2 separate regions of the Homo sapiens genome follow, and region 1 is linked to region 2. The links come from fine-mapping of genetic effects on gene expression. A gene starts in region 2. The other region holds a variant in brackets. All regions are shown on one strand. Distances are between the middles of the regions.

Region 1 (2,912 bases), 440 kb before region 2:
TATTTTCCAGATGAGGAAGCCATGACTTGCCTGAGGCCACAGAGCAGGTAAGTGAGGAAGTTCCTGTTCCAGGCAACCCCAGATAGTCCTGGAAAAATCCCCAAACTAAAGCAAACTTCCATTCCAGCTGGTGTATCTTCTCCTGAAAAATTCCACAGATTCCCTGTGCTCAAAGTCCTGTTAATCAGAATACAAACTGCTTGACAGACACTTCCTGAAGGTACATATTCCCTGTCCCGGGCTCCTCAGCACATCACCTGTTCACACGAATCCCAAATCACAGAGAAACCAGATCAGAGCTATGGGAAACAAGGGAGAAAAATCCCTGCTCCATCTTCTTTGTGCTTTTCCTATTCTACAATAAACATGTATTACTTTGGTGATTGGAGAAAAAAAAGTTGTTTTTTAAAAAGAGAAACAAGGTATTGCTTTAAGGAAGTTCTGCTAGTGGTAACCTTTTTACTGGAACATTGTTGGAAGATGGGTTCGTGGGCTTTTCTAACAGTGACTGGCATGTAGTAAACACTATATGAATGTTTGTTAAATACATAAAATTCTAGGTGCAGGCCGGGCGCGGTGGCTCACGCCTGTAATCTCAGCACTTTGGGAGGCTGAGGCGGGCGGATCATGAGGTCAGGAGATTGAGACCATCCTGGCTAACACGGTGAAACCCCGTCTCTACTAAAAATACAAAAAATTAGCCGGGCGAGATGGCAGGCGCCTGTAGTCCCAGCTACTCGGGAGGCTGAGGCAGGAGAATGGCGTGAACCCAGGGGCGGAGCCTGCAGTGAGCCGAGATCTCGACACTGCACTCCAGCCTGGGCGACAGTGACTCTGTCTCAAAAAAAAAAAAAAAAAAAAAATCTAGGTGCAGTGGTTCGTGCCTGTAATCCCAACACTTTGGGAGCCCGAGGTGGGTGGATCAGTTGAGGCCAGGAGTTCGACACCAGCCTGGCCAACATGGAAAAACCCTGTCTCTACTGAAAATATAAAAATTAGCTAGGTGTGGTGGTGCACACCTGTAATTCCAGCTACTCGGAAGGCTAAGGCAGGAGAATCGCTTGAACCCAGGAAGCGGAGGTTGCAGTGAGCCAAGATTGCACCACTGCACTCCAGCTTGGGAGACAGAGTGAGAACCCGTCTCAAAAAAATAAAAATAAAGAAAAATAAAGAAAAAAACATAAAATTCTAAATCTTGGCACTCCATAAGCTATGTGCTCTTGGACATATCATTGCATTACTCTGGGCCTCTGTTCCTTCATCTGATAAACAGGGCTAATCACAGCTGTCTCGGGTTTATTGCGTTGAAGTGAATCTGGGATGGGATGTGAATGTG[C/CTG]TGTGTGTGTGTGTGTGTGTGTGTGTGTGTACCAAAATTTATTAAGAAGGCAAACAATTTGGTTGGACAACTCTTCAAAGAAAATATACAGAGGCCAGGCCGGACGCAGTGGCTCACACACTTGTAATCCCAGCACTTTGGGAGCCTGAGGCAGGTGGATCACCTGAGGTCAGGCGTTCGAGACCAGCCTGGCTAACATGGTGAAACCCTGACTCTACTAAAAATACAAAAATTAGCTGGGCGTGATGGCGGGCGCCTGTAGTACCAGCTACTCAGGAGGCTGATGCAGGAGAATCGCTTGAACCCAGGAGGCAAAGGTTGCAGTGGGCCGAGATTGTGCTATTGCACTCCAGCCTGGGAGACAAGAGCCAAAGTCCGTCTCAAAAAAAACAGGAAATATACAGAGGCCAATAAGCACGTGAAAAGATGCTCAACATCATTAGTCATTAGGGAAATGCAAATCAAAACTACAATGAGATGACACTTCACTAACCCACTAGAATGGTTATAATAGAAAAGAGAGACAATAACTAGTGTCGTCCAGGATGTGGAGAACCCTCATACATTGGAACCCTCATTCATTGCTGGTGGGATTGTAAATGGGTATAACTGCTTTGGAAAATAGTTCAGCAGTTTTTAAAAAAGTTATACAGAGTTAACCACATGACTCAGCAATTCTACTCCCATATACCCAAGAGAATTGAAAACATATGTTCACACAAAAATGTGTACACAGATGTTCATAGCAGCATTATCCATAATAACCAGAAAGTAGAAACAACCCAAATGCCCATTAACTGATGATTGGATAAGCAAAATGTGGAGTCCAGGCACAGTGGCACATGCCTGTAATCCCAGCACTTTGGGAGACCAAGGCGGGTGCATCAATTGAGCCCAGAAGTTTGAGACCAGCTTGGGTAGCACAGTGAGACCCCATCTCTACAAAAAAAATACAAAAATCAGCTGGGTGTGGTGGCGTGCACCTGTAGTTCCAGCTACTTGGGAGGCTGAGGTGGGAGAATTGCTTGAACCTGGGAGGCAGAAGTCATGCCACTGCATCCCAGCCTGGATGACAGAGCAAGACCCTGCCTCAAAAAAAAAGTGGTATATTTATATAATAGAATATTATTCAGCCAAAAAAAGGAAAAAAAAATTTTTTTTTTTTTGAGATGGAGTCTCGCTCTGTCATCCAGGCTGGAGTGCAGTGGTGCGATCTCGGCTCACTGCAAGCTCTGCCTCCTGGGTTCACACCATTCTCCCGCCTCAGCCTCCCGAGTAGCTGGGACTACAGGTGCATGCCACCACGCCCGGTGAATTTTTGTATTTTTAGTAGAGACAGGGTTTCACCGTGCTGGCCAGGCTGGCCTCAAACTCCTGACCTCAGGTGATGGTGATCCACCACCTCAGCCTCCCAAAGTGCTGGGATTACAGGTGTGAGCCACCGTGCCCAGCCTTTTTTTTCTTAATAGTGACGGGGGTCTCACTATATCCCGTGGTCTGGTCTTGGACTCCTGGGCTCAAGTAATCCTCCTGCCTCGGCTCCCAAAGTGTTGGGATTATAGGCATGAGCCACCAC
Region 2 (2,912 bases):
AATCGACTCTAGCACTCTGAAAAATACCAAGCACTTATTTTTACTCCCCAATTTTAGCGACAGATTTACACACTTAACAGTAGATAAATATGGTCTGAAAAAGTCACAAATATCGAACTTCTTAAATAGTTAAGTGTCAAGATGACGTAAAGAGAAAATTTCTCTAGATGCTAACGTAACTATTAGAAATTATGGAAAGAATTATTTATGGAAAGAATTATTGCTTTCTTTCCTTCTTAAATTTAAGACAAAAGCAAATCACAAAGCTAGCAAAAAACCCCCACGAAACACCAAAAACCCAAACCACTTATTTTCTGTGTGTAGATTCATTATTTGTGAAATAAAAAGCCTCATCTTGTAGTAAGAACTCTTCCAAAATAATCTGAAGGCAACTCGAAACAAGGGAATGGTGAGAACAAAGCCTATTTAAGGTACGTCTGAATTAATCTAACTTAGCTGTCAACGTCCTAATGACTGACGCTTCCCAAACCTCCCTTTTCAAAGGGTGACCAGAATTTCCAGGAAATAAGAAAAACTACTCGCAACATTTAACTGGAAAAATCTAACTCCCCAAATCTCAACGCTCCCTTTCTCCAAACACCTCCAACTGATTAAAACCCCCAAATATTAACAACGGCAACAACAACAAAGATAAATGGTAGCAACATTCCTCTCCCTCGATCCCGTTATTTCATCTCACTATTTTTTGGCTGGGGAAAAAAAAAAATCTCTGGGCCAAGGGGGCGTGAACCTCGAAGAATGTGAACTTCAAATCAATGGGGGGCGGCCGTCGGGTCGCGGAAAGGCCGCGGCGGGGGGCTGCTCGCGCCGGCAGGAAGCAGGGAGAAAGGGGCTGCAAACTGCGGAGGGGGAGGGGGACCGAAAAACCCCGCCACGCGGCCCGGCGAAGGCAGAGGCGCCGCCCTCGCTCCCACGCGGCGGCTGAGGCCCGCTGCGCGGCCTAGTTCGGCGCCAAAGCGGGCGCGGGACCCGCCATCTTCACTCCGTCCCCTCCCCCGGCCCAGTGCCGCCACCACCAGGGTCCTCTCCAGGCGCCTGCGGCCTCCCCGCCTAGGCCCGGAGTACCTGCCTTGTACCTACCTGGTGTCGTCGGCCACGTTCCTGACGAACAGAGACGTGTTGGGGGGACGCAGGTAGCGGGACATGGCGGCGGCGTGTCTCGGCCGGGCGCACTAACGGGCTCAGCAAACCGTCCGCGGCTCAGGCGGCCGAGCCTCAGACACACACAGCTAGAGGGCTCTGCTACGGCAACCGACTCTTCTCGCGAGACTTCACTCCCGCCTCCACTTCCCCCTCCTACCTCCGCGCAAAGTCGGGCGCAACGGTTCTTTCCCGCGAGAACACCAGGCGTCCGCCTGCGCATGCGGAGGGCTGGCGCACGCGCCTCAGCGTCGGTGTCATTCGTTGGCTTCTTGCGGTGCCTCTTACCCTCCCCCAAGCCTGTTCTTTCTTTCTTTAGGTCTTCATTTCCCGCCGTTTTCTACCTTACACTCCACTTCATCTCCACCCCCAAATCAGGAAGCAGATGTTTTAGTCTCTAGGCCAAACTTTGCGGTTACTACTAAATGGACAGATTTTTAAACTATTTAGTTCAGAGAGGCTGCCTTAAATTTCCCGGTTGGTCCAAGTTAATGTCCTGCTTTTATTTTGCCTTAAATTTCCCGTTTGGTCCAGGTTATGCCCTGACCTGCGAAAGAAGGATTTACAGCTTGTATTGAGTGTGTAAAGGAAGGAGGTGTGTGCCCTTGCGCAGAGCTGGGCCTGTCTCTCCAGTGTTTTCAGCCTGCCTTTGCCCCTCACCCACACCCTAGCCATCTCCACTTAGTCACGCATTTGGCTCCCAACCTGGGTGGGACCAAACCTCACACTGTAGGTTCATGACTGTGGTCATTTGTAGTGTATTCTTTGTTGCTGACGGCTTCCTGGGTATGCATCGGACCTGTATTGCAGCAGTTCTCAAACTTTTTGGTCTCAGAACGCCTTTATATTCTTGTGTATTACGGAAGATTCCAAAGAGCTTTTTTTAAAAAAAGTGTGGGTTATACCTATTAATAAATAGTTAATGAGAACTTAAAATAGAGGAAACTTCGGCTGGGCTCGGTGGCTCACGCCTGTAATCCCTCCCTGTACTTTGGGAGGCCGAGGCGGGCAGATCACGAGGTCAAGAGTTTGAGACCAGCCTGACCAACACAGTGAAACCCCATCTCTACTAAAAATACAAAAATTAGCCAGGCGTAGTGGCGCGCGCCTGTAATCCCAGCTACTTGGGAGGCTGGGGCAGAAGAATCGCTTGAACTCGGGAGGCAGAGGTTGCAGTGAGCCGAGATTGCACCACTGCATTCCAGCCTGGGCGACAGGGTGAGACTCCGTCTCAAAAAAGAAAAAAAAAAAAAATAGAGAAAACTTTGACACACTCCACTACCCTTTATCACACATCATGTACCCTCTGGAAAACTCCACGTTTGTAAGAGAATGAGCATGAAAATAGCAAATAATCTTTAGTATGGTTTTGATTTTGGAGGCCCTTTTGAGAGCCATTTCCTGCTCGATAAGAGTCAACTTCTGGAGATGAGAGACTTCAGTTGGAATGCCTCCAGCGTGTGGCACAGTGCCAAGCAGGTAGCAGGGACTCAAGTACTGTTAAATTAAATGAACTTTTATTTAATAAAAAGTCATAAAGGCATTATTTTTGTGTCAATCAGCATCTAAGACAATTAAGTGATTCGATACAGGTGATGATAGTTTGTAGCACTCTGTAGCAGAGCTATTCTAAATTTTTGTTTCCCAAGATTTGCATGCTTAATTTATTAAAATGTTGGGCCAGGCAAGGTGGCCCCAAAATCCCAGCATTTTGGGAGGGTGATGTGAAAAACAAAACAAAACAAAAAAAA

Which allele goes with the higher level. Alleles are on the strand shown, and positions count from the first base shown. SD is a standard deviation of normalised expression in the study named.
With allele CTG in place of C in region 1, the expression in skeletal muscle of the gene that starts at base 1,238 in region 2 is higher (moderate effect, 0.73 SD a copy in FUSION).

Evidence for each region. PIP is the estimated chance that this variant, and not a neighbour inherited with it, causes the effect.
Region 1: its variant is fine-mapped to the expression of SRSF10 in skeletal muscle (FUSION, PIP 0.95).

The regions. Positions count from the first base shown.
Region 1 is chr1:23,535,737-23,538,648 of GRCh38, forward strand. No RefSeq gene overlaps it. Among named protein-coding and RNA genes, the nearest start is that of E2F2, 6.0 kb to the left of the region's middle. The variant C/CTG (reference allele first, on the strand shown) is at 1,337.
Region 2 is chr1:23,979,090-23,982,001 of GRCh38, forward strand. It overlaps SRSF10 (serine and arginine rich splicing factor 10), which reads right to left and starts at 1,238. Exons shown (of 6, transcript NM_054016.4): 1 at 1,102-1,238. The coding sequence starts at 1,166. RefSeq lists enhancers at 465-1,455, 693-742, 1,173-1,502, 1,456-2,446, 1,513-1,562.